3 linked regions of the Homo sapiens genome follow. The protein of the gene in region 1 interacts with the protein of each later gene in a pairwise test. Each region holds a gene or a part of one and is shown in the gene's direction. Other genes may lie near its edges. The genes, in order: KRTAP2-4, VWC2 and C11orf87.

Region 1 (2,925 bases):
GGTGGAGGGTATGGCAGACACATCTGGCAGCAATAACTTAACTTAAGCATACCCTGAGAATGATCCTACAATCAAAGAAGAATGTATGCTTGGAGTTCTGAGCTAAGGATCTGGGAGTGGCCAACTTGGAGATCCACTCCTTATCTATGAAGGACATTTGAATCCCCACCTCATCCATTAGAACACAGGTCATACTGGGGATTGAGGCCCTTTGTTTTGGATTAAATGGAGGTTGTTAGGTGGAGGGTTCTAATGAAAATACTGTGTGAACTGCATGCTTTTTACAAATAATAGCAGTTCTCCTGTCCAGATACCACCACTGGACCACCCTTGTATGTAAGTTCCACTAATAAACCCTGCATCATGTTAGCTTTCTCCAGGTCCCTTCTCTAGCTCTCAGACACATTGTCATACTTAGTGGAGTCAATGGGGGTCCAGGATGACAATGTGTCATCTGGGCAAAACATTTCCCTAATTCTCTTCCAGTACCACTTCTAACCTTGCTGCTGAAAGGAAAGTTCATTACTTATTTTTTTAAATCTGTGTTTAATATGTATAAATGTAAGAGGTTCAAATGCAGCATTGTTACATGGATATATTGCATAGTGGCATGAAGTCTGGGCTTCTACTTTAATATATGTTTTCTTTCCTGTCTAAAGACCATGGTTTACTGAATCCAATGAGCATAAAACTCATAGTAGAGGCTACTTACTGCAGACTGAGGAGACCTGGATCTCAGACCTCATATGGTGACCTCATTGTGTGACCTTGGTACACTCTCAGGACCTCAGCTGTAGAGTGAGGGCATAGGCCTACATATTCTCCGCAATCCCTTCCCGGACTCTACAGATGCAACGACTAATTCCAAACAAATTACAAATATAATAATTGCAATGGATCCTTGAAGAGGGTTTTACAATCAAGGTAGAAGTTGAGTTTGGATTGGAAGGATGAGGAGGGCATTCCAGGTGAATGATGACACATCAAAACCAAGGCAGGAAAGCCCAGGTCCTAGTCAGGGGAGAGTGACCACACCAGTGGCCAGGGATCTGCATTTCGTGTGGTCCCTGCTCATATGAAAAACCACAAGCCTATCTTTAAGTGAGTCATGGAAGGAGCTATCTGTGAAGCAGATGACTACTGGTCTGCACTAGGATGATGCAATTAACCTGCTACCATCATGCCCATGTGCATTAATAAGGCAAGTCACTGCTTGGGTGCCGGTGATGGGAGCCTTTGAAGACAAGGAAGAACATGCTAATTTTAGCGCCAAAGGGCAGAGCGATTAGACACTAATTTAGAAAACACATTCTTTTCTCTCTTATGGGTTAGGAATATTTCAAAGGAAAATTAATCAGAAGTGAATCCAATGTCTAAATTTAGTGAGGATAAACAATACAAGAAAATGAGCGAATATTTGTGGTGTATGTACATGAATATGTATGAGGTGAAGAGTGACCAAAATACCATTAGTCAATGCTAAATCTTCACTTAATTGGCCAGAAGATGCACAAGAAAATGATCATATGTTGAAGGGTCATCAGCTCCCAGCCAGGGTATATAAAGGGCCCAGAGGGGGAGGAGGACATTCACACCTGAGAACATCCAGCTCCTCTCAATAGCCCAACCCACACCAGCCTCAGACACCACCATGACCGGCTCCTGCTGCGGCTCCACCTTGTCCTCCCTGAGCTACGGGGGAGGCTGCTGCCAGCCCTGCTGCTGCCGCGACCCCTGCTGCTGCCGCCCCGTGACCTGCCAGACCACCGTGTGCCGCCCCGTGACCTGCGTGCCCCGCTGCACGCGCCCCATCTGCGAGCCCTGCCGCCGCCCGGTGTGCTGCGACCCCTGCTCCCTGCAGGAAGGCTGCTGCCGCCCCATCACCTGCTGCCCCTCGTCGTGCACGGCTGTGGTGTGCAGGCCCTGCTGCTGGGCCACCACCTGCTGCCAGCCTGTGTCTGTGCAGTCCCCCTGCTGCCGGCCCCCCTGCGGCCAGCCGACCCCTTGCAGCACCACCTGCAGGACCTCCTCCTGCTGAGACCCCAATGCCCCCACAGAGCAATACACTGAAGCCTAAACATCTATCTGGTGTTTTTAAAAAGTTAAAAGAAAAATAGATTTTTTTTCACAAGGTGACAATAGTGATTTTTACCATCTGGATACAGCCTGGTGTAAGCAGACGTCCATTACCACCCTCACCCACATTTTCAGGTGTCTACATCAGCCTTAGTCATTATGGATAGTAAATCGACCTTTAAGAATTCCTGGGGTGGACTTTGCAAACACATTCTACAACCTGATGGTTTTTACTGCTCAAACTGTCACCATCATCTTTTGCAATGTGTTGCTCACTGTTGTCAATAAACTAATTTTTCCTGGCATAGCAGACTGCCCTGCTCCCTGATTTGTTCGTTAGTGCATGTTTATTAGCGTACACAGATAAGCAAGATTTTGGAACCTGCACAAGGGAAACAAAGCTCAACCTAAGCAAAACCTTATCCATAGAAATCTCATCTATTCAGTCATTCAGGAATTGTTTATCAAGGGACCTCCAGTTGACAGGTGCTGCCTGATTAGTGATGAACAAGCTACATGCCTTGTATCCAAGAAGCTTATGGTCTAATGGAATAGACAAAAGGAAAGACAATGTTCATGAAGAGGGGTAGAAGTGGGAATAGCATATGCCAAGCCCAGAATGACCACTGGTAGTAAACTGACCAGCACAGCGCATCTCATCTTCTTACCACAGTTCCTAGAGTAGCATTTTTCAAAGTGTGGCCCATGCGTCATACACAATAGAATCTCTTGCAATTGCCTATTAAAATGCACATTCTTAGGCCCCAAACCAAACCTAATGAATCAAAATCTCTGGGAGTGGGGCCCAAGGCTGTTTATTTTCTATCACTTCCATGTAATTCATTAGAA
Region 2 (3,661 bases), on another chromosome or scaffold:
GTGGTCTAGTGCCTCAGAAAGAGACATGGTTAAACTCCAGTTGAGCTTTTGCTTCTCGTAATAGCCAGTCCACTCAGTGGAGATTTCAGTTTTTAGTGTTTGCATTGTATAGACAAAGGGAGCATCTGTGAGAGTTACTCATGTTCTTTACCTTACAAGCGGTATTTGTATCATGGACGTGGGGCACACAACTCAACTGGGGTCTCCCTGCCCCTGGCAAAGCAGGAACTCAGCTTGATACGACCCATTTCCATGTCCCCCATTTCCATGGTCTTTCTAGTGAGTATCCCCACTTCCCAGTTTTGCTTCTGATGGCTGGGTCTGCATATGCTCTTCCTGCTTTGTCCTGGGTCAGCCAGATCAAAAATCACTCCATTGGTGGTAACCAGGAGATAAATCACCATGCCCTGTGTGAGTGACCATGGAGGGTCCCGTTAGCCACGTACAGCTTTCTTGGGAATGGCTGGTATGCTTGATTTGGATAGCTCAAGAAGGCAGAGTATGAGCCCATGGCTGGAAAGTAGAGAGAGGCAAATGGAAGCTTGGTTTCTAACAGAGCATCGTGATGCTGGATAGTGGGCAGAATGACCTGGAGGAAATTGGAATCACCATGGACTCGCAGTCAGGAGCCCTCAGTGGAAGAGGACCTTGTGCTCACAGGACAGACATGCCCATGGCATGTTGCCTAACACCTCTGAGTCTCAGTTTCCTGTTAGTACAAAGGGTCAGTAATTTGAGTACGTGTATTTTAGCGCTGCTGTAAAAGTTCAGTGAGGGAATATTCATAGAGCTCCCGGCCCTTGGCCCCGCTTGGATGCCACCCTGTTTCTCCTCCTTCACCCCTTTCCCCTTTCCTATTCCAGTGTCTTCGTAACTGGAAACACTGGGAGTGTTCCATGTGAGTCTGGGTGGTGACTTGACAGGGTTATAGACAAGGGATTCACCTACGTGGTGAGGGGATGGGCAAGAACTCAGCAGCAAGTTTTTATTTGTTTAATTTTTAAAGAGATGAAAAACATTTCTTCAAAAAAAAGTTTAATAAGAAACCCAATATGCAGACCACAAATTAAACAGTGGCTCTGGCTGGACAGGAGAGGGAACATCATAGCCCTGTGGCCCGTCCTGTGCGTTTGCACCTAAGACAACTCACCAAACACCCAGCATGCCTGTGTCCACACTCTGAAAACCACTGGGCTGGATCATTTTTTAAACATTCCTAAAACACTTAGGTGTCTTCGCAGAAAGTTTAGGGAAAGAAAAGTATGACCCTGTAGGGCCAGGCTCACTCCTGTAATCCCAGCACTTTGGGAGGCTGAGGCGGGCAGATCACTTGAGGTCAGGAGTTCAAGACCAGCCTGGCCAACATGGTTAAACCCCATCTCTATAAAAAACACATAAATTAGCCAGGCATAGTGGTGGGTGCCTGTAATCCCAGCTACTCAGGAGGCTGAGGCAGCAGAATCGCTTGAACTCGGGAAACAGAGGTTGCGGTGAGCCGAGATCGCACCACTGCACTCCAGTGTGAGCGACAGAGCGAGACTCCATTTCAAAAAAATATATATGACCCTGTAGGATAAACATGACAGCAGGCTAAAGTGCTGATTGTGGGCTTGTGTTTCAGGTGTCTCCATGCGAGAGGTGTCGCTGTGAAGCCAACGGTGAGGTGCTATGCACAGTGTCAGCGTGTCCCCAGACGGAGTGTGTGGACCCTGTGTACGAGCCTGATCAGTGCTGTCCCATCTGCAAAAATGGTATGTGAGATCCCCGTTGGTGACGGGGTGCACCTCCCACCCTGATGCACAACCCATGTGCTGCTTCATGGTAGACGGGACACATACGGATACGTGAGTTTCATCCTATGTATCAATACACATGCGTACACACGTGTGTAATCTTTCAGCCACAGTGGTTCTGTAGCAAGGCCTTCTCTCTCTTACTGGCATCAGCACCATGTTTTATGGATGTTAAGAAGTTCTTTGGGGAGAAATTCAATTTCCACCTTTGAGGAGAGTCACTTATTTTAATTTAACTTTGTTTGTTCTTGCAAAGCTGTTTCTATCTTTCCAAGACACATTAAACACACTGGTTGGGCTCATTTACTTTTCATTACTAAGTGAATGAAACTTGGAACATAATTGAATATTTTTCATAAGCAAATTAGGCAGGAAGAGAGTCCCTTCCTATTCCCAGTGAGAGCCCCTGGTAGATCAGAAGCCTTGCTTACTTTATGAAAATGAAGTGGCAGGATGTCCTTGATCCTAATTTGTCATGGGAGAGTGTTTCCTCATCCTGACAAACGATGATTACTCTGTACCTGAGGTACTGAGGGCATTACACTATAAGACGGTTTTTGACAAGAGTGCATACCCAGGCTGGCTGGGCCTGAGAATTATGGCCCGGAGGGCAGTTTGACAAGAGGCTGAGCAGAGCTTGGGAAACAGCGGACAGAGGGGACACAGCCGGAGTCTACAAGGATCTGAGTGGCCTCGCTGACAGGAGCGACTGGGCTTTCTGGATGTTGCCCAGGGTATGCTGTGGGGACCCCTGGTTGAGAGCATTCAGAGCTAACTTGTGATGCTGTCGGCCGTTCATGTGGGTTGCTGGACCGAGGCTTGATAGCTGTGTGGCATGGGTTTGGTATGTGGCAGGCATGTGTTGGTGGATGGTGACACAGGGGTGGTCATGGTGCTCAGACAATTCCCAGAGTCTGTCATGACAGTCGAAATTGTGCGGGCCATGAGGTTCCATGGGTACCTTCGACCACGTACCTGTACATATCCAGATTTTACTACAACACATTGTAAAACTCTTGAGGTAAATAATTGGAAGAGGGAATGATGTTGCTGTTGAAGGATAGACCTGAAAGAACAAGATGACTGTGTTAGGAATGTCATAATCATTGTAGCATAGTACATCCAGTCCTCCAAAGGCAAGTGGACAGTGTTAAAACAAAGATGTCACAGAGTGTACTTTATATAGGGTTGGCTGGTCTCTTGTGCATGTTAATTATGAAGAAATCCTGAGGTAGGATTCCATTAGACAAGAACGAGGGGGACTTTGAGCATGGAGTGTGTTTTTTTTTTAAAAAAAAAAATGATGTTGAGACACCAGCTGTGAGATGGAGGGAAATCAATACAGTTTACTCTACTAGTGTTAATTACCACTAATTAACACTAATAAAGGGGGAAGAAGACTCTGGGATTGGGGAAGGAGAGGCAGATGGAGAATCTGGCAGAGTCTCGGTGTGGCTTTCAGCACACCCGCTGAGGAGCCCGAGTGAGCGCCTCTGGTCTGCTGGGAGAGCTGAGGGCTGGCGCTCAGGCCATGTGCCCTGCATGTCGGGGGTACTGGACGACAACAACTCTCACTGCGTCAAGGGGTTTAGTGAATGGCTTAAATATGGGTTGCTTAAATATTTGGCGTCTTAACTACCCAAGATATTCCATGTTTTTCCTGTAAATTTTGATTATAGACTAAGTCTTGGCATTAGATAGCCGGGAATCCTAGCTTGAGTGTTAACAATAGGTGAGAAGACAGGATTTCAACCCCTGGATTTTTTTTTCTTGCTTTTAGAGAAATTTCAAACCTACAGAAAAGTTGAAATAACTGTCCAGTGAACAATTGTATACCTTTAGCTACACCTGTTGCTAACACGTTGCCG
Region 3 (3,601 bases), on another chromosome or scaffold:
TCCTTTGGTTGAATGACAGAAGAAGCCAGAAGCATATTACAATATTAATTATATGCAGTGACATCTCTTCTTGGAAATCAAGCCTTTGACAGCTATTCAAATTTTTGGAAAATGTATGAATGAAAGTGATCTGCAAAAAGCTCTACCAAGAGAGTCCTTACTATCCTGCAGGGTGTAAGGCAACAGTGCCCCTATGAGCATCCCTCTCCCAAGCAACTCATTGTTCTAAATTGTCTACTTGGTCCAGACATATGTGCTCTTATCCAGAGGAAACATTACCTCTAATATTTTTGGTCATCTATTAAATTGCCCAAGCTCAGTTTGCATCTTTTATAAAAATAATTTAATAAACTTAATTTTAATCACCCATAAGATAATCACCTTTCCTGAAGCACAGAAGATCATCATTGAAGCATGCCATCTTGTAATATTAGGAAGACCAGGTATAATCTTTGGGTACAATATATTAAACAATGAACCAGTTTTTCTCCAGTGCCTTAGTCACTTCCTAGTAATAGGTAAAAGAGTGCATTAACTCCCTCAGGCCACTAGGGAATCCTGTAGTGCATCAGAGTTCTACACTGTACATCAGAATGACTAAGGCACTGTGAAGAAGAAAGTCCATTGATTTTTGTAGCTTACCCTCATCCAGTGGTAGCTCTTTAATACCTTATTACAGAATGACTTTTGGACTTGAAATTTGAATAGAATCAGGGTCCCAGAAGGGAGCTTCATCATTTCCAATGAGCTCCAATAAGTGCATGGATATTACTTTCTTTCCCTTATTTGGTGCACTTTCTACAGCGAATAATTTCCCATTTTATTAAAGCAATAAGATGTTCTGTTGTGAGCAGTGCTGGATAACGATTCCATTTTCTTGGTGCTGAAGCTACGCATATGTTCTTGCCTTATGAATCATAGTATATTCAAGGCATGCAATAATAATCCCCTTCCAAGGAGCAGCCTGTACACTCTGTGGGGGTAATTATGAAATTGTCCTACATCATTTCTCCCCAAAGGAATGCAAGGAGCAAGAGAAATAAAAGCATTATGTATATTGTAAAACAAATGATCTCAATACCTCTCAACGTGGGCACACATCTGTAATACACTTTTATTGTGCAACTTTAAATGTGTGTGCCTTTCTCCATTAATTGACTGTAGTTTAATATTTTTAATAGTGCTCTGTGTAAAGATGATGCAGTTTGTGAGTCAGATTTCATACTGAGCTTAATATACTCAAAACCTAAGCTTCCAGTGGTATTACTTGTGATTTTTTTATGAGATAGAGAATTACATGAAATTCTAGTAATCCAGTTTCCACACAAAATTATTTCAATAAGCACATATCCAAGCAATTTGTACAGACCTTGTTTAAAGCACTGCTTCTTATAGGGCTCAATTGGCAGTCTCAGGAGCTTGGGATGCTACCAACAGGGCATTTAGGTTTTCATTTTTATGAAACAAAAGGCAATCTGGAAATAGCTAAATTTATTTTAAGGATTTTATTCACTGATGTCCCGTCAAACTAAATGCTTCAAACCCCTATAGCTACAGCTTAACTTCTGCACTTGCTATTCAGTATTAATAAGGTGGCATGCTTGATTCTTATTGTTTTTAAAAATGAGAAAATTTGGAGAGAGAATACTATTATGTCAACGGTACAAGACTCTGAATCTTGAAGATGTAGATGGATATAATATTTAGACTTTATATACACCCATAGATATGTATTTATATATGCATACGTTTTGTATAAATTTACAATTGACTTTTTGTATTCTCTTTTCTGTCATTACAAGAATGAGATGGAAACCAAAATAGTTGTTCCATCCTCTTACCCAAAGAGGATACTGAAAAGTCCGGTATGTGCATGCACTTGTTTCTCTGGGGTCAAATCTGAATGACTTTCTCTTTAATAATGAAAGGGGAGAGTCCTGGTTAGCTTGGAAAATTGGTAATTAGATAAGCTTCCTTTCCTAGGTTAGTGACTCAAATGTAGCAATGATAATAAAGTTATGACCATATCAATGTGGTCTAAATATCTAGATGGAAAGCAAAAATATCCAGAAGAGGTTTAGGGCCATCTAGACCACAAACCTGGAACCTGGATTGTGGTTTGATTTTTTTCATTTTCAACCTATATGTTGTGTAGAAATACAATTTATATCTGCATAGCTAAAGGTAAAGTGAAAATATGACCATTATCTGTTTAGTTTGAGAAATCATTTTTGGATAATATGGATAAATTAGCTTTAAGAAACTTCTTTGACATCTGACTTTTCCACCATTTCTATCTGTATCAATTGTATTAATTAGATAATGGTTAAATTTTTATTTTTTTATCATGTAGACATATGCTTTCATGCTTTTCTGTGGGTGAAAGTTGAACAATTGCTAGCTGATATTATGTGGAAGTTACAGGTTAAAGTAGAACCAGAAATTTTAATATAATCTGATCAGGTTCCTTAGTCCCATTCCCATGTGAATCTGAACTTTGAATTTGAATCTGAAAGGCCTACTTATTTGGGCCATTTTTTGTTGGAACTTGTGATTGTAACTCACAGATGTTTCAGTTCATATTAGAATAAATTGCCCAATCTATAAGAGAGTGTTTAATCATTGGAATGAATGTAAATCTGATTCTGATTTGGTTATTTATTTGATAACATTTGAGAAACAGCTAATGTGGCTTGACATCAATACTTATTAATGTCTTCAACCTAATAATACAATTGGTGTCATGTATGAATGCTTAGCTGACAATAAGAATTTAATCAACTTTATTTGGAGACAATGACTTATCAAGGAGGTCCTACCCATTTGTGGTAGGGATATTTCCCTTACAGTTGTGATTACAAGGGATTGTTTCTATAGAGAGATGAACAGCAACAACAGTGACAATGATGACAACAGAAAAACTGACTTTTGAACTTGAGTATATCCAATAGATAGAAGAAAAAAGATATTAGAATTCATGGAAATTTTGTTTTGCTTTTCTATCAATAAAAGAGTTTTCTTGTTAATTGGCTTTTTGGACACTATTTCCTTGCCAATTTAATGTACAATATACCAGGATAACATAATTGCTTATTCTATTATACTCAGATGCTCAAAGAAATTATATTGTTTTCAAAAAATTTTTATAACTCATCTGCTCTTCCTCACAAACCAACTACATCTTAGAAATGGGATGTGTATAAAATTTAGGACAACCCAATAAACAGTCCAGTATAATAATGTAGCAGCTCCTTTACACAGATGCTCAGGATCTTGAGGTCATATGCTTAAATTCTCAGATTTCCTCTTGCTCTGCCTCTACTTCTCTACTATAATATAATCAGGTATATTAGGAAGGGATGTGGCTGACATGATTCTGTGCCAGTTAGGGGAAAGGTAGCCTCCAACTTCTGTAAATTCTGAAGGATCCTAGCTTAACCCTGCTGAAAAGGATCTGCTCCCTAGTTTGAAGTGCTATTGTCCTACTGGCTTTTGTGTTGACATTTACCACAGCAATTTTACACCGTGGACCTTTGCCCTCCATCTCAAACTCATACATCCTGACCCCGGCCATCTATAGGTCCACAGTGCTCTCACACAT

Evidence for each region.
Region 2: the proteins of KRTAP2-4 (region 1) and VWC2 interact in binary tests that used the Homo sapiens proteins (3 or more experiments, as listed by UniProt).
Region 3: the proteins of KRTAP2-4 (region 1) and C11orf87 interact in binary tests that used the Homo sapiens proteins (3 or more experiments, as listed by UniProt).

What each region holds. Positions count from the first base shown.
Region 1 is NC_000017.11:41,064,572-41,067,496, reverse strand, and holds KRTAP2-4 (keratin-associated protein 2-4), read left to right. Parts: upstream 1-1,617; 5' UTR 1,618-1,651; coding exon 1,652-2,038; 3' UTR 2,039-2,381; downstream 2,382-2,925.
Region 2 is NC_000007.14:49,801,090-49,804,750, forward strand, and holds part of VWC2 (brorin precursor), read left to right. Parts: intron 1-1,621; coding exon 1,622-1,751; intron 1,752-3,661. UniProt on the Homo sapiens protein: BMP antagonist which may play a role in neural development. Promotes cell adhesion.
Region 3 is NC_000011.10:109,426,089-109,429,689, forward strand, and holds the end of C11orf87 (uncharacterized protein C11orf87 precursor), read left to right. Parts: 3' UTR 1-3,079; downstream 3,080-3,601.